Regions from separate parts of the Homo sapiens genome. Here regions 2 and 3 are each linked to region 1. The links come from fine-mapping of genetic effects on gene expression. A gene starts in region 1. Each other region holds a variant in brackets. All regions are shown on one strand. Distances are between the middles of the regions.

The links. PIP is the estimated chance that this variant, and not a neighbour inherited with it, causes the effect.
Region 2: its variant is the best candidate, but not a certain one, in a credible set for the expression of OR52N4 in whole blood (TOPMed, PIP 0.65).
Region 3: its variant is the best candidate, but not a certain one, in a credible set for the expression of OR52N4 in blood mononuclear cells (TOPMed, PIP 0.90).

What each region holds. Positions count from the first base shown.
Region 1 is chr11:5,750,275-5,758,468 of GRCh38, reverse strand. OR52N4 (olfactory receptor family 52 subfamily N member 4) reads right to left here and starts at 4,226. Exons shown (of 2, transcript NM_001005175.5): 1 at 4,164-4,226; 2 at 2,511-3,776. The coding sequence starts at 3,728. The coding sequence ends at 2,763.
Region 2 is chr11:5,726,883-5,735,076 of GRCh38, reverse strand. It overlaps a transcript of OR52N4 not described here and the pseudogene OR52P1. Among named protein-coding and RNA genes, the nearest start is that of OR56B1, 5.5 kb to the left of the region's middle. RefSeq lists a silencer at 712-912. The variant A/G (reference allele first, on the strand shown) is at 3,413.
Region 3 is chr11:5,791,799-5,799,992 of GRCh38, reverse strand. No RefSeq gene overlaps it. Among named protein-coding and RNA genes, the nearest start is that of OR52N1, 4.6 kb to the right of the region's middle. The variant A/G (reference allele first, on the strand shown) is at 5,024.

The DNA of each region.
Region 1 (8,194 bases):
TGTAAGTTGCTCTTTTACTCTGTTGATTGTTTTCTTTGCTGTGCAAAAGCTTTTCAGTTTGATATAGTCCCATTTGCCTATTTTTGCTATTTTTCCTTGTGTTTTTAATGTCCTAACTAAGAAATCATAGCCAAGACCAATGTTATGAAATGTTTCTATTTTGTTTTCTTCTAGGAGTTTTGTGGTTTTAGTTCTTTGGTTTAAGTCTTTGATCCACTTTGAATCTATTTTTGTATGTGGTGTAAGATAAGAGTCCAATTTCATCCTTTTGCATATGGATATTCAGTTTTCCCAAATTCATTTGTTGACAAGAATGTCTTTCCCCATTGTGTTTTCTTGCCACCCTTGTTGAACATCCATTAACCGTATGTGCATGGGTTTATTTCTGAGCTCTCTATTCCATTGGTCTATGTGTCTTAATACTGTGCTGTTTTAATTTATTACACTTATTTATACATACTGTTTTAATTGTTGTCGTTTTATAATATGTTTTTAAATAATGAGGTGTGAGGCCTTCAACTTTGTTCTTTCTTAAGATTGTTTTGGTTATTTATAGTCCTTTGTGGTTCCACATGAATATTAGCACTGCTTTTTTATTTCTATAAAAATTTTCATTGGGAATTAAATAAGGATTGCACTAAGTTCATAGTTACCTCATGCAGTACGAGAATTTTAACACTAGCAAGTCTTCTAAAATGTGAACATAAAATATCTTTCCATTTATTTGCATCTTCTTTAAAAAAAAGTTTTGTAGTTTTCAGTTTATAAGTGTTTGCCTTCTTGGTTAAATTTATTCCAAAGTGTTATATTCTTTTTAATATTATTACTGTAAAAAAGATTGTTTTCTTAATTTCCATTTCACATTGTTCAAGATAGTGTATGGAAGCACAGGTGATTTTTGTGTGTTGTGAAGTTAGTAGATGCAAATTTTTTATCAAAACTGTATCTAGCCAACTTAACAATTTTGAAATAAGTAATATACATTACATTGACAAGTATAAAATATAAATACATGTTCCAAGATATTTAAGATAAATACATCTTAAAGTATTGAGTGAGAAATTAGCAGATTAAGTTGTTTAGCACAATAAAATGTATTTAAATTAAAACACATAAAATCACTGAATAATAACATCTATTTTTAAGGAAACTAAAATATAACAAACGTTATGCCAAAATCACTGGGAGATAAACTGGAGGAGCAGGACATGGAAAATTGGAGTAGACATGGAGAATGCAGGGGGAAAAAGGAGATATTGACCTGTCTAAGAAAGATAGTATGCCATGAAGAATAAGTACGTGGAAAACAGTTCTCTGAACCTTAGCTTCCTTTGGGGAATCATTAGTTTTATAGCCAATACTTAAGACCATGACACTAAAGGAGAACACCTAGGAAGAGAATGTAGAAAACAAATCAAAGTTAAACAAAGTGTATTACATAAATGAAATATGTAGTGTCTCTGAAGTAAATAAAAATGATATAGTGTTTCAAGATATTGGAAATACTGAGTTGAAATCAATATTCCTGAGAGAGTGTGAGATGAGCAAAGAAGGAGGACTATTTAGTTTGTTAACATGGAAAAGCATTGGTGAAGTTGACAATAGCAATTTCAGATAACAACTGGGATAAGAGAAAGACAAACTAGGAGAAGAGTGATGTCAGGTTGAGGAAGTAAAGAGAATACTGATGACTTTTAGCTTTAGGGTAGCAAATATTGAAATAGGGCGATACATGGAGGATAATAATATTTTAGTGGGTACTGCTGTTTGGCCAGCTTGTAAAATGCAACATAGTCAAGAAGGATTCACTAAGTGAATAAATGCAATTTGACGACTATAGTTAACTAAATTTCAGGGAAGTACATGTTTTCTTGTCAGTTGGACACAGAAAAATAACAGTAAAAGTTGAGTTTATATTCCTTATATAATTGGCTTAGTTTATGAGACATTAATATGAAAATACTATGTTCTATAGTTTCTCACTTGTTTTTTAATTTAGATAAATCTTAAATATTAGAAATATATACCTAATTTTCCTTATTAGATTCACAATTAGAGATAAAATGAAACAAGTAGATTTTGATCCCCTTTCATACAGGTCTTAGAAAAAAATTATACTGTTTTTTATTTTTGGTTAAGATCTCTACCTCTCTTTCCAGGCTCTGTGCTTTTTAAAAAGCCCCTTTAAAGAAAACGAAATATCCAATTATTCTGTTGTGAAATAATTATGTGACCTATTCAGCCTAATAATATTTTAGCTAGATGCTTAGAGACTTAAAACTCATTTTAGACTTTATGGCATGCACTCTAGATTCTCCTTCAGGAAAATGTCATTGAAGAAACAGGTTTTTGGTAGTTATGAGAAATATATAGCACATGTTTTCTAGACAAAAGTAATAACTGGCTATTAATCTGAAATATTAATCTGAAAATTGTGATCATTGAAAAGAAGACTCACATCATCTCCTTCTACTTAGATTTGTCTTTTCATAAAAAATGGACTCATTAGGTTTTGTCGAATAAAATATGGTTTAATTATTAGACTGGTCCTTCACATGAGTGAGAAGGTAAAAAATTTATAGAAATGTTGGTGGGCCTTCCAATGATGTTGAGATTCCCAAGGTACTTATTGAGAATGCACCAGTTAACAAACTCCATTTTGTGATCAATACAGTGCTTCCAGAAAGATTTTATGAACTCCTGCATAAGAGGCAAATAGAAGTAATTCTTTCCTTCTCTTCTCACTCCTGGCAAGTGTTCATTCACATGCTGTAGGATTTGGTATCCTTAGAACCTGAAAGGATCCTTATGACACAGTCTCGTATCTGTTTGGTTTTCACCCCATAGACAATAGGGTTCATAGTGGGTGGTAGGAGCAGATAAATATTGGCTACAATGATGTGGCAAGAAGGGGGGATTATGTGTTCCCCAAAGCGGTGGGAAAAGAAGGAGAAGAAAGCTGGAGTATAGGAGAAAACAATGGCACAAATGTGGGCAGTGCAGGTATTAAAGGCCTTCTGCCGAGCATCTGCTGAGGAGAGGCTGACCACTGCCCGGAGAATCATGGTATAGGAGTTGGTGATACACAGTATGTCAAAGCCCCAAATCAGGAGGGCAACCATCAGACCATAGATGGCATTGACCTTGACATTACCACAGGACAATTTGGCTACAGACATGTGGTCACAGTAGGTATGGGGAAGTATATTGCCTCTGCAGTAGGGCAGGAGCTTGGTGAGGAAAGTAAAGGGAATAATGAGTAATACCCCTCTCAGGAAGGTGGCAGTCCCAACCTTTGCAATTACAGGATTGGTGAGGATAGTTGAATAGCGTAAGGGGTAGCAGATGGCCACATAGCGATCCAGGGCCATAAGCATAAGCACCCCAGACTCCATCCCTGTGAAGGTGTGGGTGAAGAACATCTGGACAAGGCATTCATCAAATCCAATGTCCTTGAGATGAAACCAGAAGATGCAGAGGGCTTTAGGGATTGTACTAGAGCACATAACAAGGTCAGTAAAGGAAAGCATGGCCAAGAAGTAGTACATGGGTTTGTGCAGGGCATCCTCATAGTGAATGAGGTAGAGGAGTCCACAATTCCCTACCATAGCCACAACATACATAGAGCAGAATGGGAAGGAAATCCAGAGTTGTGTGTCTTCCAGTCCTGGGACTCCATTCAGAATAAATGAAGCTGGTATTAGGTCTGTTTTATTCAGTGTTAGCATGATAAGTCTGGTAGGTTATGAAATAGCTCAAAATTTGTCTGGGCTTTCCTAGAGTTAAAAAAAAAAACAAGAGAAAATATAGGTTATTTTTACTGTCTCCCTCTCCCCCAACTTTTAAAAATTCCATAATGCATTTTAATGGTCCAACAACCAAATTTCTGAGTGCCAAGAAATAATTTTGTTTGTCTGTTTAGTTTTATTGATTGATTAATTAATTGATTCAGTAAAAAATTCTTATTGAGCAGTCTAAGTTTTCAACACAGATGCCAATCAAACATCAATTATTTTATAAAAAGACATATTCCCAATCTCATAGATTTATAATCAAGTATAATTCTGACTTTTCAAATGGTATTTTTATTAGAATATCTTACTTAACTATAACTATACTCATCTCAATATAGATATAATTTTAAAGAAGAGTCATTTGATTACCTCACTGATGATCTGAGAGATGAGATGTTGACTTTTTAATTTTTATTCTTAATGACTGACTGATATTTATTCTTGGGTACTCAGGCACTGTTCAAAGAATTTTGAAATTTTAATTAAATTATTACTCAATGAAGCTTGGGGTCTCAAAAATTAGTAAATTTATTGGGTGTCTATACTCAATAATAATTTAATTGTATATTTTAAAATAACTAAAATAATATAATTGGGTTGTCTGTAACACAAAGGATAAATGTTTGAGATGATGGATACCCCTATTTACTTTACTGGGATTTTTTTTTTTTTTTTTTTTTTTTTTTGAGGCAGAGTCTTGCTTTGTTGCCCAGGCTGGAGTGCAGTGGCGCAATCTTGGCTGCAACCTCCACCTCCCGGATTCAAGCAATTCTCCTGTCTTAGCCTCCCGAGTAGCTGCGACTACAGGCACATGCCACCACGCCCAGCTAATTTTTGTATTTTTAGCAGAGATGGGGTTTCACTATATTGGTCAGGTTGGTCTCCAACTCCTGACCTCAGGTAATCCACCCACATCAGGCTCCCAAAGTGCTGGGATTACAGGCATGAGCCACTGTGCCCGGCCCTTTAAAAGGGATTATTACACATTGTATGCTTCTATCAAAATATCTCATACACCCATAAATATATACACCTACTATGTGCCCACAAAAATTTAAAATTAAAAAAGTCAATGAAGTTTTGATTCAATTTTTTCACTTTTCAAGATATCTTTCTTGTTCTTTATGTATCTAGTCAACGCAAACTAGAAGATATCCAAATGCATACATACAGAAAATATATAAAGTACTTCAACAACATCAGTAAGAAAAAGTTGCAGGAAGAAACATACACTTCAAAAGAGAAATAAAATTGCCAATGAACAGGTAAATAGGCACAAACTTTTATATTAATCAGAAAAATAAGTAAAAATTGTATCTCTCATGACAAAGCACCTTTTTTTGGTATGTAGTGACATACCAAACAGGACAGCTAAAATGAAAAGAACTAAAAATACCAAGCATTGGCAAAGATGTAGAACAACTGGAACTCTCATTTACTGCTGGTAGACATGTAAATTAGAACAACTCTTTATTAGATATCTCATAATGATAAACATACACATGACCACCATTGCCATTTCCAACAAAACTATGTATATATATTTACTAGAATACATCAATTAGAATGCTTATTGAAACATGATTTGTAGTATAGCCTAAAACTGGAAAAAACCTAAATGTTCATCAACATCAAATGGGTAAATAAATTTTGGTACATTCCCACAATGAAATACCACGTAACAATAAGAATAAACAATCTATGACTATATGCATAATATAGACGAATCTCACAATATGTGTTAATTTTTTTTAGAAAGACTTAAAATAGATGTAACATCTTGTGATCTTTAAATGAAATACAAAAACGGATCAAATTATTCTGTGCTATTAGAAATAGAAAAATCTTTTTAAAAAGTGAGAGAGAGTGATAACTGAAAGGCAGTATGTGGTAGAAGGGTCCTGTTAGTTGCTGGTCATATTCCCTTACTTGATTTGGTTGTGAGATATACAAGATTCAGGTTGTAAAAATCAATCAACATGTAATTGGATTAATTGTAAAATTGCATATGTATGTTAGAATTTATAATAACAAAAATTAAATTGCCAAGAGGATTAAAGGACGTAATATGTTAAAACATGCTACCACATTTTAAGTGCTCAATACCCATATTTGTATTTTCTACTCAGGCTGGCAGCCATTTTGGCAATGCTTACAAAAATTAACACCATAGGAATCATGAGTGCCACCAAATGAACTCTCTTTTGTGCCCCATCAGAGGAGGTATTCATCCTAACCTCCATTAATAAAATACACTGTTTTAAGATTAGCATCTGATAGGAAGTACAGTCACATGTTCTGCCTTATTGGGTAAGATGAAGAGGACAGATCAGATTTATCAAAAGGCAACTTGTTTTGAAAATAGTAGAAAAACACAGGTTAAACTTGTTAATAGGCATGCTCCTCAAAGATATGTACTCAAGTCATTACAAAATGTCAGAGTTATACTGGGTGTCATAGGAGCACCTGTGTGTCTAACCTAGCCTCAGGAGATGCTCCTAGAGAAGAGGACAGATGCTTCCAGACCTGGAGCATGATTAGAATTCTGACAGGTCAAAGTGGTAGGAACAGCATTTTCTTCTGTTGCTGTTTGCTGTTTCCTACTCATATCGCACTGACATTCTCAGCTTTGTGATAGGCAAACCTCTATCTCCTTGGTGCTCCCTTTGCCCACTCCCCTCAAATGTAGCTAATCCCTATACATTCTTCAAGCAGAACCATCATCAGGAGGTCTCAAATGTCCTTTGGACATGATAGCGACCCATCCTTTAAATTATTTTAAGATAATGTAGCTACCAATAGCCTTGACTAGGGGTAAGAAATTGATTTGTTCAAACAATTATTCTCTTTAATAATATTTCCCTCATGATATTATGAAAATCAACTTATATTTAGGAATTCTCCAAAATTCAGTGAAATCACCGATGTAAGGACAGTGTCTGGTAAAGCATCCTCAGAGCCGAGCAAATCAAATCTCTCATATTAGATACTCAATAAATGTCAATTTTAAAATAAATAAACAAATAAGTAAATGAAAAAGTGAATGACTCACCCGAAACACTTTATTTTGATAATTATTAAATTATAATCTAAGTATTATTAGATTGGTGCAAACATAATTGCGGTTTTTACCATTAAAAGTAATGGCAAAGCCACAATTCCTTTTGCACCAACCTAATATTACTTGGAATGTATAAAAGAAACCACTAGAAGGAAAAAAAAGAGAAAGTTTTACTTAAGATTACTAGAAAAGCTAAACAACATAAGGCATCTCTCTCATAAAGTAGAGAAACAGAGAATACAAAGTGGAAAAAAAAAGATGACAAAGGCAGAACAAACATTGGTTTTGGATATAAAAATAATTTAAACTTCCCATCAAGTTGAAATAATTCCAACTAATTTTTAAAAATTATATATGCAGTATAAGATTTCATCAGAATGAAAATTATACACAAAGGTTTAAAAATATATACAAACATAATATTTTTAGATAAACAGTATACCTCATACTTAGGATATACTAATACTAGAAAAAAGAATTCAAAGCTAAAACACTCAAGTCAAGATCACTTTGAGAAGACAAAACGCTTAGCATTGTGTAATTAAAGGTAATTGTACCAAATTGTTTTTTTTCCAAGTTTGATAAGGTTTTTCTATAACACAAATAACGAAAAGCACTTAAATTCACATTCTCACTTTGTTGATATGGAGGGACAATGTTAATATGAGGACCTCCCAAAGTTACACTTACATTACATAGCAGCTTATAAACTCATTTTTAAATTTTTAATTAAGGTAAGTGAATGGTTCAAAAATTGAAATTTTAGCTTTGGAATTTTCAGAAGTATGTTAATTATTATTTTGTAAAAGCATAAAAGATAGTCTTCAATACATGAAATGTTTTTCTATGAACATCAAAATTACAGGATTCTGCCTTTCAGACAGAATTTATAAACTATGAATTTATATTTTATATTTGTAGTCACTATTATATTTTTCAGATTTTTTACATATACCTCATTTTTCAGATGTTTTACAATATATTATTAAGCAAAATAACTGACAGTGACAGTGGCAATAATCCATTTATAAAACTACTTTTTCAATAATTTATAAAAATTTAGTATAAACTATTCAATAGTGTCACGATTCTTTTCTCCATCTCACTTTAATATATTGAACAGTGTCTTATTAAATGTGATGCTCAGTGCTTGTTTTGGGCTATACATTGCTTTGTAAATAGCAGCTCAGGATGCACTTTTGCAGCTTTTCTTGGAGTTAAAGTGACCATTTCAAGTAATGGAAAATGCTATTTTTAATGTCTTAATGAATTATGTGTGGAAAGAACAATTACCTGGGTGGAGAAAAATATACTTGTAGATCTGTATTGAACCTGCACA
Region 2 (8,194 bases), 23 kb after region 1:
TTGTTAAATACCAAAAAAATCTGGAAGAAAATAAAATTCTTTTGTTGTATCAATTCTTATTAAAAACTAAATGTATTTCCTTTCAGAGGTTTCTTACTGCCTGTATGTTTGAATAAACATATACTCCCAAATGATGGAGTAAATCATCCTTCTTTAATGGTGAATGTAATTTGATAAAGAGTAAAATTATCTAAATGTATCTACAGAAAATTTCAATGACTAAAGAGCACAAGCAATAATGGAGGTAAAGCTAGTTTGACTTTGAGCTTTTAGAGGAGAATTCTGAAGGGGTTCAACACAATAGTTTTATCCTGGATGCGTGGAAGTATGTAACCCATTTGATGTACAAGGCCTGGCATTTTTACTTAATACTCATTTATTACTTTACATCCTAATATCACATAACATTTTATCTTTGATGTTTTCTCTATTAAAATTTTTTTCTGATTTGTATATGTGTGATACAATTAAGAGAAGTAGTATGTTTGAGCTCACAGAAAAAGAATTGTTTTTAATTTTTTTTACAATTATATTCTAGCATGACATAGAATACGATTCTGCTATATAAAACAGTTAATATATTAACCCTGAAGATAATCTGGCAGTGTTGTTTTTTGATTACAGACAAGGTAACTTCTAGTGCACCATGTGAGCCTTAATATTTTCTAATTCTGACTTCAACCTTTTTTGGAAAGGCCCTCTAATCCTCTATATGCTACTAAAACAGAGAGAAATGTCAATCTTTTTGCAGAATGTTGACAAAACAACATAATGTTTAGGATAAGCCATTGAACTCTCTGGAATTTAGCCAAAGTGACCATGAGAAGATTTTATCACTTACCTTGCTTATGAACACAGACTCACAGTCTGGGATCCTAGGCGTGGCAGAAGTTTTCTACTGGGCAAAGACAGAACTTTATGAGAAAGATGCTTTAACACAAGATAAAAATGTGTTGTCAGCTAAGATGTGGCACAGAAATTATAAACTTCTGAAATTTATGGAGAGTAGTAAAGCAGCTCAGTGACCTAAGCATAATAGATCTCATTTGCAGACATGATGAAAGACCTATAGAGAAAGCTGAATTCCTAGGATGTTAAATCCCACTAGAATAGAAAGCAGATTAACTCAAAAACATGTATCCTATTAATGTAACCTAAGAATTTACATGAATAGAAGAATATCTTCATTTATTAAATCAAAATGGACCTATAAAGGTGAGAAATTTTAGAGTGTTTGAATGGTTTTTAAGCACACAAACTCTGGGTGTTCTAAATTCTGTGGCTAGGAGATTTATTTAAACATTTTTAAAGGAGAAAGCTTTCATTCAAAAATACATATTTAGTTCTGTCTGTGTTTGAAAAACATGTTAGGCATAAAGTGATCAATAGAACAGTCATCGTTCCTGTTCTCATTGAAATTGTGGTCTAGTTGAGGTGGGGGGAGAGAATAATAACAACAAAATCAAGCAAATATATAATAATAGACTGGGATTAGTGCTTTAAAGCAAAAGTACCAAGTGATAAGAGTTCACATGAAGAAAAAAATAATCTCTTGTTGTCAGAGAGGATATCCTGAAAAAATGTTTGTTCTGAGGGCAATTGTTTGAGTAGAAGATAACTATGGTGTGTGTGTTGGGGTGGGGATAAAAAAGACTTTTTATCCAGGAATCTTTGAATGTTAAAATGAGAGGGATCAAGGCATAGTCAAGGTAACAACAGAGTGTTACAACAATGTGTCTGGTAATCTCAGTGTAACAACAAGGTAACCTCAAGGTGACAACAATGTGTCTGGAAACCTCAAGGTGTGGTGGAACATGGGAGGTGATGTGAGATGGTGCTGTTGAGGTCATAGTGGTCAGATAATTTTAAGCAAATTTATGCTAAAGCAATATGGAGCCACTGAAAAGGTTTAGGATAATTTAGGCATGGCAGCAATGTGAAGACCAGATTGTACATGGCAAGAATAAATATAAGTAAGTTGGATGAGCACTGACAACAGTACTTCAAGGGTGAGACAGCTTTATTTTAAGCTATGAAGATATAGAGAAATGGATGGATATAGAAGTTATACTGGATGTAAATTTTATAATATTTATGACCCCAAAATAACTCTAAGTTTCTCATACATGCACTGGAATGGAATATGTCATTCATGTACCTAAGGATGACTGGAGAAGAACCAGATTATAAGGGAAGAGAATGAGTTCAAATGAGGTCATGACCAATATGAGGTGCCTACCTTTGAAGCATCCAAGAGATTATTATTTAGCAAAGAGAGGAAAAAGTAGTTCCAGAGAGCAAAGGAACAATTTGAGAAAAACTGGAGTGACTAGTATTTTATTTGGAAATTACTGGAATATTTGAATTAATGCTATTAGCACAAATAGATGTTTTAGCAAGTGAGGATAGTGACAGAAAGAAGGTGGTCTAGCATGTAGTTTCTAGAAACTCATCATGATGTCTAGGTAAATGTTGAGAAAGAAAAAGAGACCGAAAATAACCTATATAGGAAAAGACAGATTGATTTTTAAAGAAGAAGGCAAAGAAATTGATTCATAATTTTACTGTACTGACAGATCTAATGAAACATAGTTTAAAGTAATATTGATGGATTCAGTCTCTTGGAGGTTACAAATGACTTTTTGAAAAGAACTGTCTATTTTTGGAGTGCATAAGAAAAAGTCATATTGGAGTGGGCTAAAGAGTAAGTTAAAGGCTAGGAAATAGAAAAATTTATGCACATAACATTTTAAAGAAGTTTGTACAAACAAGAAAATGTAGGGCAGAAGTTGGAAGTTTAGAGTTGGAAGTTGGGGTTTAGAGTAATTTGTAGTAGAAAGTAGAATGGTGGTTACCAGATGCTGAAAAGGATAAAAGGTGGGGAACTGGGGGATGCGGAGATGTTGACCAAAGTGTATAAAGGTTCAGTTAGACAGGAAGAGTAAATTTTCAAGAACTATTGTACAACGTGGTGACCACAGTCAATAGTAATATATGGTATGTTTCAAAATTGCGAAAGAATAAATGTAAAATGTTCTTACTGCAAAAAAAATAACTTTATGAGGTGATAGTTATGTTAATTAGACTGATATAATCATTCCACAAAGTATACATATATCACAATATCACATTGCATCCCTTATATATATTAGTCAATTAAAAATGAAAATATACATCAAAAATAAAAATTAAATTTTAAAAAGCATTTCTTGTTTTAAAATCGGGAAAAATAATGCATCTTTGGAGGTTGGTATGAACTATTTGGTAGAGAGAAAAATAGATTGTTGATAAGTCAGAGAGAATTGGATAAATAAGAGCATATGGTTGCTGAAAAAAGGAGGGGTGATGAGAGCCACTTTCCATGGCTCACATGGCAGGGACCTACCTCAAATTGGAAGAATGGTACCTGTCA[A/G]TTAACCTTAGAAAATGTGGTTAAATGTTTGCCTATGTAGGTAGGTGTGATATAATACATTTGTTATGTTTAGTTAGAGGAAATTAAGAGCTACCATTTGGTAATGTTTTAGGGAAATGTTTGGACCAAGAACAGGAAGGAAGCTGCAGATTAATGAGAAACTTATTTTTAATGTAGAGAAAAGGCTTACAATTCTGAGACGTACACAACAATTCTGGAGGTGCCAGAAAACCCTTTACTGTATTACATCAAATAATAATTCGATATTATCACAATTCTTGCCTCCCCTGCTGGTTTCTCTGCTTTCTTCCAGTAAACTTCTTGAACATACAAAATGCTTAAAGAAGCTCATTTACAATGAATGAGAAGTGGATAAGATGTAGGAACTTATCCGACCCTCAGCAACTTAGAGCGCTTAGACTGCAGAATATGAAGTAATAGAGCAGTAATTCCTCAATGTCCTTTTCATAATCTGCCAAATATGTGAGTCCATTAGTCCAGTGCTCACTTAGAAAATGATTCTTCCTGAAAGTTTTTAGTTTTCATTGCTCTTCAAATTAGACACTATGACTAAATTCTCTATTAACTGAACAGTATACACGAATGGAAGGGATGAGGCTGTACCTTTTGACCATCCTACATTGCTTACTCTTACAAGGAACAGATTCCAAATACTAATATAATTTGAAGTCTGCTTATAGTCAAGGTGAGTTCAAGATGATATCATCAGAAGCAAGAAATAATGACAGTGGGAAGGAATTAGTTAAGCACACCATCGGTCATAATTGAAAGAAACAAAAAGGCAAGAGAAGTTTCCTAATGCAATGAAGAGCACAGTGTTTTCTGCATAGACATCTAGTTGCTGTCTCCTGCAGGAAGCCCTCTGCCTTGACACTGTTCTGGATTTTCAGCTCTTCCTTTCATGGTCCCCATTGCTATGGACTTAGATTGGAATGAGTGAGAAGTTAGCCAAAGATGGATCTCTGAGAAACACCAACATTTAAAAGTCAGGTTCATTAAAAATAAAATAAGGGGAAGAGGATGAAAAACATTAGAGACATGAAAGAAAAGCTGGGATTGTGTGGGATCATAGAAATCACAGTGGATAGATTTTGGAGAAGTAAGTCATAATATAACACAATTTAAGGTAGTTCTGTTAAAAATGGTTACTGCTGGCCGGGCGTGGTGGCTCACGCCTGTAATCCCAGCACTTTGGGAGGCTGAGGCGGGCGGATCACGAGGTCAGAAGATCGAGACCATCCTGGCTAACACAGTGAAACCCCATCTCTACAAAAAATACAAAAAATTAGCCAGGCATGGTGGCGGGCACCTGTAGTCCCAGCTACTCAGGAGGCTGAGGCAGGAGAATGGCATGAACCCGGGAGGCAGAGCTGGTAGTGAGCTGAGATTGTGCCACTGCACTCCATCCTGGGCACCAGAGTGAGACTCCATCTCAAAAAAAAAAAAAAAAAAAATGGTTACTGCTGGCTTTGATGACAGGTATTTCTCTGGAAACATCAACTTCTGGTTGAAGTTAGATTGTAATATAAGAAAAGAATAGGACATAAGAATGCAGCAATAATTAGTTCCAAAAATATTTTTCATGAACTTTCATTTAAAAAAAATCACTAAGGTTATGAGAAATTTTTCTATGGGGCAAATGTGCCAGTAAATTCAAATGGGTTATAAACAGGAGACATCCAAGAAGTAACTGATAGTCTGGGATCCCAAAGGCATATTATAAGAGGCTTTCTTGAGAGGAAAAAGAAATTGGCAATAAATAAATATAGCAAGAAAGGAGGAAATAATGGCTATACACATCAAAAGTTTATATGAGGATTATAATTGGAGACAGTTTATTCCTTGTCATTTCATTTTTTATGGAATTGAAATCAATGTAATATTACAAACATGAGTGGCCGGAGGTGTATAAGGGGTTGATCATGATATAAACTTATTATTGTAAATCATAAAAGGTGAACACATAGACATCTAGCATTGAGATTCACATTAAAGTGAGAAGTTATGAACAAGCAGTGCTTATAAGTATATTGCTTACAATACACTTTAGAAACGTTCTACAAAGTATAGAAACCCATGATACAGTATAAGATTGTTACACAGTTGGGGTTGTAGGTTTCTGTGCTAGAAAAATGGTCAATTTGGAGAACACAAAAGTAATTTTGTTGATGAACTGTAGTGTTAGAATTGTATATAAATCTTAAAAATCTATTAAGAATATCTCGGCCGGGCACGGTGGCTCACGCCTGTAATCCCAGCACTTTGGGAGGCTGAGGCAGGCGGATCACAAGGTCAGGAGATCGAGACCATCCTGGCTAACACGGTGAAACCCCGTCTCTACTAAAAAATACAAAAAATTAGCCGGGTGTGTTGGCGGGTGCCTGTAGTCCTAGCTACTCGGGAGGCTGAGGCAGGAGAATGGTGTGAGCCTGGGAGGCGGAGCTGGTAGTGAGCTGAGATCATGCCACTGCACTCCAGCCTGGGTGACAGAGCGAGACTCTGCCTCAAAAAAAAAAAAAAAAAAAAAAATCTCAATTTAAGGATTAGATACATGGACACAGGAAGGGGAACATCACACACCGGGGTCTGTTGTGGGGTGGGGGTGAGGGGAGGGATGGCATTAGGAGATATACCTAATGTAAAGGACGAGTTAATGGGTGCAGCACACCAACATGGCTCATGTATACATATGTAACAAACCTGCACGTTGTGCACATGTACCCTAGAACTTAAAGTATAATAAAAAAAATTGAGGGTTAGAATAAAAAAATTAAAACCAGTGACAGCCCATATACTAGTACTCTCCCTATAAAAAGTGATTATTTTTTCTCTGAAAAATGGACAGTGCTCAGCCTACTTCACTGAGTTTCACTATTTGTGCACTGTTTATCCCAACATATTTGAAGTGTCCCAATAAAACACTTATATTCCTGACAGAGACAGAGCTTTGAAGAGCTGGGCATTGGCTTTCTACCTCAGGACTGATACTTTCCCAGGACAGGAGTGTCTGTGAACTTCCACAAGGGAGTTTTGTGTTCCCTCCACCTAACAGGGTAGGATGGCATATAAGCGGATGACAAGCAAAAAATGTGTACTATTGGCGAACTCAAAATTGAAAATGCTAATTTGTTAAGAGAATGTGTTTGATAAATTGTCTGAAGCTATTTGGTGAGGAGTGGACAGAAAGCTCAGTATGTACAGTAACTGGTTTCCAATCTTAGTTTCATGGATATAGTTAGGAACTTTCCATCACCACATGGAGTTACTAGAATCAAGCTTAATCTTCTTTTCATTATAAATAAATAGAAGAATTAATAAATACAGACTAATTTCATAATTAAGAATTCCCATTCTGAGTGGTTTGGGTAAGTGGCCATTTCTTATAGGTTCAGGAGATAAGTCAATGACTTCTGAAAGGTCCTCCCATTGTATGTATGTACAAGAATAATTGGAAACTGCTTGTGAGGGATGATATCCAAGGTCATTCAGACTTAGGTTAGTTCCTGAGAGGCTGGAGACAGGAGTGTACCTGTGAGATAAATAGAAAATGTCTAGAAATGAAGAGTTATTCCTAACCTCTCTTGTGCCCTCATTCATAGAAGTCCTAAAGGATTCTAGTTTTCACAGCTTTGTTCTGCCACTAAGTAACATTGTGGATGCTGGTGGATCTTTTTCTCCTCTTGGTTTGAAGCTCTAATGGAGAAATACAGGGTTTATGGAAAAGCATGATAAATTTTTTGCGGCTTTAACTACTTTAACTGTGGCTATATTGTCCTATCTTCTGATTCTTGCAGCTGGTAAGATAGCTGGTATATCCTAAGGTATGAAATTAGAAATCCATGCCTGGAATATTGGAAGGGTGCCAGGAAATGAGAAGAGATCTTATGGCTATGCAGGGACTCTTCTAAACTGCAGCAGGGTAGAAACCCTCCAGAACACAGTGGGTTGTTTTCAATATCTGCACGTTACCCAGGTTGCAAGAATCTTCCCATGTTTACACTTCTCTGAAAGGAAAGAAAGAATGCCCTTCTCTGTGATTTATCATTCTTGGAAATGGTCTAGAAAGTTCTGCAGAAGACATTATCCCCCTCTTAAAAGCTCTTTCTGGTCTCACATACTGAGGATTATCTTGAAAAGGTTTTTTTTTTATTTTGGATTAAGTCCCTCTATACTCCAGGGTCACTCAGATGCCTTGATGCCCATTTCCTGCCCACTTTGAAACACCCTGACAACTCTTTTACGGATCTGTTTGGTCTTAACTCCATATACCACAGGATTAAGAGCAGGTGGCAAAAGCAGATAAACATTGGCCAAAAGAATGTGAATATGGACTGGAACGTGATGGCCAAAGCGGTGTGTAAAAAAGGAGAAGAGGGCTGGTGTATAAGAGATGAGGATGACACAGACATGGGAACCACAGGTCCCTAGGGCCTTGGACCGAGCTTCATGGGATGAGAGGCGAAGGACAGCTTGTGCAATTAGGGCATAGGAGAGACCAATGCAAAACAAGTCAACCCCAGTGACCAACAGTGCAGCTGTCAGCCCATACACACGGTTAGGCCTGGTGTCTCCACAGGCCAGCTTCACCACAGCCATGTACAGTACGTGTGTAGGATCACATGGCTTTGGCAGAAGTTCAAACGCCCAATAAAGAAGGGACATGGGAGCATGAGCAGGGAGCCTCGCACTACAGCTGCCACCCCTATGTGGGCAATGATGGTGTCAGTGAGGATTGTGGCATAGCGGAGTGGGTGGCAGATG
Region 3 (8,194 bases), 42 kb before region 1:
GTAACATTGATTTTCTTAATTCACTACAAACTATCCCTTCTTTCAAGAAATACTTTGAGATGTGTCCACTGGGTTATAGTTAATCAAATTATGTCAGCACCTACCAATTATGCACTTCTATTATGATTCAGCTTGATCTATATACAAGTGTAAACCTGGCAGGTCTGGATTTTCCAAGTCAGAAAAATCAAGGACAGAGATGGGAAGGGCCAAAAAGGTACATAATAAGTTACAATTTATAAATCATGGCCATGTGTATTTTGTATTCGTCTCTTTTTGTATTCTTTCAGGTTTCTTGATGGTAAGCATGAAATATTTTTGAAATGTTTGCATTTAGCTAATAACATTATTAAGCTCTACGTAATTTTCATGCTTTTTGTTAACTCTCCTCAAATCTCTATGTTGATAAGCATGATATATATAAGCATGATACATATGATAAATCCATGATATATATCACTCTTTAAGTGTGCTTACATATACTATTAATATACAGTACATGTATTACCTATGATCATAATTTTATACCTTCTTTTGATGTATCATTTTTAGCCCCCAAATAACTATAGACAATTATATTGGGTAGGATAAAATCTTTACTAATTTTTTAGTCCAGTTTTTGAGAATGGTTAGCTTTCCATCTTTCTTCTGAAGTCTGAAACATGAATCTAACCTTGTAAGCTTTTCTGATTAAAGTGAGACTCCATAGTCTTACCTTTTGTTTCTTTCCTTCTTTCTTTCTTTCTTTCATTCTTTTTAAAAATATTTCCCCAGTTATTGGTTGCTTTAGATTACCAAATTGAATTATTCATTTTTCCATATCATTGCAGTTTAACAAATTATTTTATATTATCTTCTGTTATATGTTAATCTCCTTCTTCAAAGTTCTAATTTTGATTGCTTCTCTCTCTCTCTCTCTTTCTCTGTGTGTGTGTGTGTGTGTGTGTGTGTGTGTGTGTGTGTCCGTCTGTCTCTATCGCTGTGATGGGATTTAACCTAGAGTTTTCTACAGAGTTTTTTTTAACCATTAATCAGTGGAAATCTTTTCAAGTGTTGCTGTATAAATAATCTCAGTATATAAAAAAGATAAAAGTAAAACCTTCTAGAAAACAATAAAAAATAGAACTGATTATTTTTAAAGCATTTTGCTTTAAGGCAAAATACTTTTAATGTTAAGTAAAGTAAACCATGTAATTTTTCAGCACAACCTGGAACATAATAAGAAAAATACGTAATACTATCACAATTATTGTTAGTATTATTATCATTATATCGCTCTACAAAATAAGTGAAAATAAAATTATATCCAGCCATCCCTTAAAACCTCCTGGATACTTCCGTCTTACTCAGAGCAAACACCAACATCCTTATATTTGTTTACAAAATCCTACACAATTAGGGCTCTTTTAAATATCTGAATGTATCTCCCAGTATTCTAATTCTCATTCTCTCAGTCCATCCATACCTACTGAAGTTTTCTCAAGCTTAACAAACATGTACAATTAAAGATATTTCTACTTGCAGTATCAATGCCTGCTATGTTCATCCCAAGCTGTATAATGAACGGATGGATGAATAAATTCTAAAATCTCCTTTTTGGATGGTTCTCCTGCTTATACATAAATACCTTAACAAATTAGTGTCACAATAAACTTTGAAAAATAAAAACGTATTAGGAAGACATGATTTCAAGTTTCAAGATGTCCTTAATCTTATCTACAAAAATTAAAAATTAATGAAATCGGAGATATTTAGAATTGGGAAGAGTACATGTAGTAGATGCATGCAAATTGTCTTTTGTATTATTTTGCATATCCCCAAAATAAACATATTATAAATAGAAAAATGTTACAGAAATGTAAATTTGGCTTTGAGGAATGTTGCCCATTCACACAGATAAAATTTTCTAATAAGATAATGGGATCACTGCCATCTGAGGTATCAAGCAGTGGGAAAACGGCATATGTCATTAATGTCGTCAAGAACTTGGGCTACATGATCACTAGAATTTCTTCCAAGTGTTCTTTTTTTTAACTTTTAAGTTCAGGGATACAAGTGCAGGTTTGTTCCATAGTTAAATTTTTGTCATGGGGGTTTGTTGTGGAGATTATTTCATCACTCAGGTAATAAGTCTAGTACCCATTAGTTATTTTTTCTGATCTTTTCCGTCTTCCCACCCTCCATCCTAACTCTTACACTAATTCATTTTCAATGGTAGAGATGTTACTGCTTCCTGAGGAATACTCTTCCATCTATGGAGGGCAGAGAAGTTTTTCTATTATTGTATAGAAATATGCTTGCCTATATCTCTTTGGTCCTTGTCACATCAGCCTCATGGAATCCCCTTCCTTCAGGACCTAAACTACATTTAATTTTCTCCCTCTTCTCCCTCCTCAAGGCAATTTGCAAATTCCTTGGTTTCAAAATTCTAAAGAGTGAAGTAATTCAGAACTTCCTTATTCAACTGCTCTCTCATTTAAATCCCTCCTATATAGTAGCAATTTTGTGCATTTTATATATTTGTTTTCTTTTTATCTGAACCATTTTCATCCAAACTCACCCTGGTGCCAGATGTTTTTAAATTCCCATTCATGACTGATATTACTTAGAAATAATTGCACAATATTGATGAGGAACCCTATGTAACAAACTTAATATCTTCTCTGGGGATTTTCCAAGCCAAGGTAAAAAAATTCTTTGGGGCTTTACAGATAGATGTCCCATAGGTCTCTGAAAAGGAGGTGAATTTACCTTTGTTGAAAATAGATCTATAATTAGAATATGTCTATGCCTGACAGAAAAAAATCTCAAATTTTATTATTGATGGGACATGTGAAGTGTCTAGCATCTATTGAATCATAAACCTGGAATTTTACCTGACTCCCTAGGGCAGTTCCATTCCAGTTTCATAACATTTTATATATTTATTCATGTGCCATGTGGGTATTTTAAAGCTTTCTCAAAAATATTGAGTAAACAATTTCAGAATGTTTTATGCTAGGGGCTCATTAAAATATATATTCTGCAATAAGGCTGAGTTATGTCTTTATTTGAAAGGTTAACACTGTTAAATGCACTGTCTCTCCATCACTGTTCCCCTTTACTTCAGTAGAAATATAGCATTCTTTTCTGTTGCAATCCCCGTTAGTACATCTTGATCAAGTTTAAGGAAACATCAAAGGCTGGGATTGAAATTATCCTCAAAGTAGACAGATGTCTGGAAAGGAATCAAAGAACATCGTGACCACAATTTAATACCTTGGGTTTGTAGAATGAATGCAGTCTATGGAGAGGAGAAAACGGTAAACAGTAATATGATGTAATGGCACATCTTTCTTCTAGCACAAGCAGCTACGATGGACAGAATCCCCACAAATGTAGGTCCTTTTTTCTTTTTCAGTGAGCCAGCTCGCTTACCGAAACACATAAAATAAGCTCTATGCCATAGAGCTTCAGCCCAGAGTGAGTCTTCAATTATTAACAATATGGTGGTGTGTAGCTTTATTCCAGAGCAGATAGCTAATAAATGAAAAACATAGATGTCAGCTTTCCTTTTAAAACTTGCTGAGTTACAATATTAATAGCATTTTTAAAATAATACTTAAATAAATAGTAAGCTATCAGATGCTAGGTAATGCTTCAAGTCCTAGACTCTGCTACAAAGTTCCTCAAGTCAGAAAATCTTTGAAAAATATCCTTACTTCGGTTTTTTTTTTTGCTTTTTGTTTGTTTTCTGAATTAAAACTGTATTAAGCAGGTATATCTGCTTATAAATGCTATGCATATATAATAATATACTTATGAATAGGTGTGAGAAATTAAAATGAAGTCTATTTATCTGGTTATAATACAGGCATACCTTAGACATAGCACAGATTTGGTTTCAGACCACTGCAATAACGTGAGTCACATGAATTTTGGGTTTCTCAGTGCACATAAAATGTATGTTTACACTATACCATGGTCTATTAAGTATACAATAGCATTATGCCTAAAAAATATATAGACCTTTTTAAAAATATGCTATTGCTAAAAAACGCTAGCGATTATCTGAGCCTTCCGTGAGCCATAATCTTTTTGCTGGTGGAGAGTCTTTGACTGCTGTTGACTACTTAGGGTGGTGGTTGCTGAAGTTTGGAGTGATTGTGGCAATTTCTTAAAATAGGACAATAAATGTTGCCCCATTGATTGACTTTTACTTTCATGAAAGATTTGCCTGTGGTATGTAATGCTATTTGATAGCATTTTACCCACAGTGAAGCAGCTTTCAGAGTTAATCCTCTCAAACCATACTACTGCTTTCTCAACTAAATCCAGGTAATATTCAAAATCCTTTGTTGTCATTTCAACGATGTTCACAACATCTTCACCAAGAGTAGATTCCATCTCAAGGAACCATTTTCTTTGCTCATCCACAAAAATCAACTCCACATTATTCATGTTTTATCATGAGATTGCAGCAATTCAGTCACATTATCAGGTTTCGTTTTCAATTCTATTTCTTTTGCTATTTACATCACATCTTTAGTGATTTCCTCCAGTAAAGTCTTGACTCCATCGAAGCCATTTATAAGGGTTAGAACTAACTTATTTCTAACCCCTATTAATGTTGATATTTTGACCTCATCCCATGAATTATAAATGTTGTTAATGGTATCTAATATGGTGAATCCTTTCTAGAAGGTTTTCAATTGACTTTACACATGCACATCAGAACAATTACCATCTATGGCAGCTATAGTCTTACAAAATGTATTTCTTAAATAAATAAGACTTGAAAGTCACAATTGCTTCTTGTTCCATGTGCTGCAGAATGGATGTTGTATGAGCAGCCTTGAAAATAAATTAATCTCCCTGTACATTTCCATTACAGCTCTTGAGTTGCCAGGCACATTGTCAATGAGCAGGAATATTTTGAAAGGAATCCATTTTTCTTGAGCAGTAGGTTTCAACAGTGGGCTTAAAATATTCAATAAACCATGCTCTAAACGTATGTACTGTCATCCAGGCTTTGATGTTCTAT[A/G]TAGAGAGCAAAGACAACATAGAGTTAGAATAATTATTAAGGGCCCTAGGATTTGGGGATTGGTAAATGAGCATTGGTTTCAACTTAAAGTCACCAGCTGCATTAGCCCCTAACAAGATAGTCAGCCTGTTCTTTGAAGTTTTGAAGACAGACATTGACTTATCCTCTCTATGATGACATGCTCTTCCAAAAGAAGGCTGTTTCAGCCAGACACGGTGGCTCATGCCTGTAATCCCAGCATTTTGGGAGGCCAAGGTGAGTGGATCACTTGCGGTCAGGAGTTTGAGACCAGTCTAGCCAACATGGTGAAACCCTGTCTCTATTAAAAACACAAAAAGTTAGCCAGACGTGGCAAGGGAGCCTGTAATCCTAGCTACTTGGGAGGCTGAGGCAGGAGAATCACTTGAACCGGGGAGGCAGAGGTTGCAGTGAGCCAAGATCGGGCCACTGCCCTCCAGCCTGGGTGACAATGGTGAAACTCTGTCTCAAAATAAATAAATAAATAAATAAATAAATATATATATATATATATATATATATATAGAGAGAGAGAGAGAGAGAGAGAGAGAGAGAGAGAGAAGGCTGTTTCATCTACATTGAAAATCTGTTGTTTAGTGAATCCATTTTTATCAATGATCGTGGGATCTTCTGGATAACTTGCTGCAGGTTCTACATCAACACTTGCACTTGCGTGTTATGGAGATGGCTTCTTTCCCTCATGAACCAACTTCTGCTAACTTAAACTTTTCTTCTGCAACATCCTTACATTTATCAGGCTTAAAAGAATTAAAATAGTTGATGCCTTGCTCTAGATTAGGTTTTGGCTTAAGGGAATATCGTGGCTGGTTTGGTCTAGACCACTTAAACTTTCTTTATATCAGCCATTAGGCTGTTTTGCTTTCTTGTCATTTATGTGTTCATTGCAGTATCCCTTTAATTTCCTTCAATAACTTTTCTTTTGCATTCACAACTTGGATAACTGTTTGGCATAAGAGGACTGGCTTTTGGTCTATCTCAGCTTTTGTCATGCCTTTCTTACTAAGTTTAATCATTTATATATATATTTTTTAATTTAAATTGAGAGGTATGTGACTCTTCCTTTCACTATACACTTAGTGACCATTGCAGGGTCATTTATTGGCCTAATTTCAATATTGTTGTGCCTGAAGGAATAGGGGGGCCCAAGAAGAGGGAGAGAGACAGGAGAGTGGCTGGCCAGTGTAGCAATGAGAATACATACAACATTTATAAATTAAGTTTGCCATCCTATGAGTGCAGTTTGTGGAATCTCAAATTGATCTATAGGTTCAATATTGTCTTCACAAAAATCCAAGACAGCTTTTTGTAGAAATTACACAATTAATTCTAAATTATCTATGGAAATGCAAAGGACAAAGGATATCCAAAGAATCTTTTTAAAGAAGGACCTAATTGACAGTGCTTACACTAATTTAAAAATGTATTATAATGCTATGACAATCAATAAAATATAGTAACAGTATAAAATTAGAAATATAAGTACCACCAAATCTAAAATAAAAGTTAAAAAAGAGAAATTGAAGATGACATAAATAAATGGAATGATATCTCGTGTTCATGGACTGGAAGAATTAATATTCTTAAAATGTCTATAAAGCCCAAAGCAATCTGCAGATTCAATGCAATCTCTATAAAAATTCCAATGTCATTCTTCACAGAAATGGAAAAAAATCTTAAAATTTCTATGGAACTATAAAAGACCTTAATTAGTCAAAGCAATATTGACCAAAAAGAATAAAGCTGGAGACACCACACTACAGAATTTCAAAATATATTGCAAAGCTATAGTAATCAGAACAGCATGGTACTGGCATAAAAACAGATACATTGACCAATGGAATGGGCTAGAGATCCCAGAAGCAAACCACACATTTAAAAAGAAAAGGACCTGTCTTCAATAAATGGTATTGGGAAAAATTGATATCCACATACAGAAAATATAAATGAACCCTTAGCTTGTCTCTTATACAAGAATCAACTCAAAATAAATTAAAGATTCAAATATAAAACTTGAAACATTAAATTAATAAAAGAAAACATAGGAGAAAAGCTCCATGACATTGGTTTGGGCAAAGATTTAATGACTGTGACCCCAAAAGCACCAGGCAACAAAAGCAAAAATAAACAATTGAGATTGGATTATATTAAAATGCTTCTGTATAGCCAAAAATACCAATAGAGAGATAACTTCTCAGATTGAAAAAAAATTTGCAAATCATATGCTGGATAAGGACTAATATCCAAAATAAACAAGGAATTCAAACTACTCAATTGCCAAAAAAAAAACCCTATAAAAAGTAGAGAAAGGACTTGAATAAAAATGTCTCAAAAGAAGACATACAAGTGGCCAAAAAGTATGTGAGGAAATGCTCAACATCACTAATCTTTAGAGAACTGCAAATTAAAACCATAATAAGACATTACCTCACACCTGTTACATTGGCTATTATCAAAAGGATGAAAGATAAGAGCTGTTGATGAAAATGTTGAGAAAAGTGAACCATTATACACTCTTGTTGGGAATTTAAATTAGTATAGTTCTTTTAGAAAACAGTATAGAGGTTCCTCAAAAAATCAAACACGGAATTACCATATGATCCAGCAGTCTCACTGGGTATATGCTCAAAGAAATTGAAATCAATATGTTAATGAGATGTCTGCAACCTCGTGTTCATTGCAGTATTATTTGCAATAGTCAAAATGTGTCCATCAATGAATGAATGGGTTTAAAAATATGGAATATGTACACAATGGAATACTATTTGGCCTTAAAAAATTCAGAAAATTCTGTCACAAGCAACAACATAGATGAACCTAGAGGGCATTGTTAAGTGAAATATATTATTTTTTATTATGGCATAGCTATGCTTCTGCACTGTACCATTAGTCTAGGTCTTTATATAATCATTTGGAACTAAGTTTCATTACCCTCAGTAGGCATCATTATACCCAGTCCTTAGTAATGAAGCAAAGATATTCATTATTGCTACTCTTGGTAAACATTGCATAGAAGGAAGATCTTAACCAGTGCAATAAGGCAAGAAAAAATCATACAAATAGGAAAGAAAGAAGCAAATTACTCATTTTTCACAGAGTGAAAAATATGTCTAGATAATTCCAAATCATGTTCAT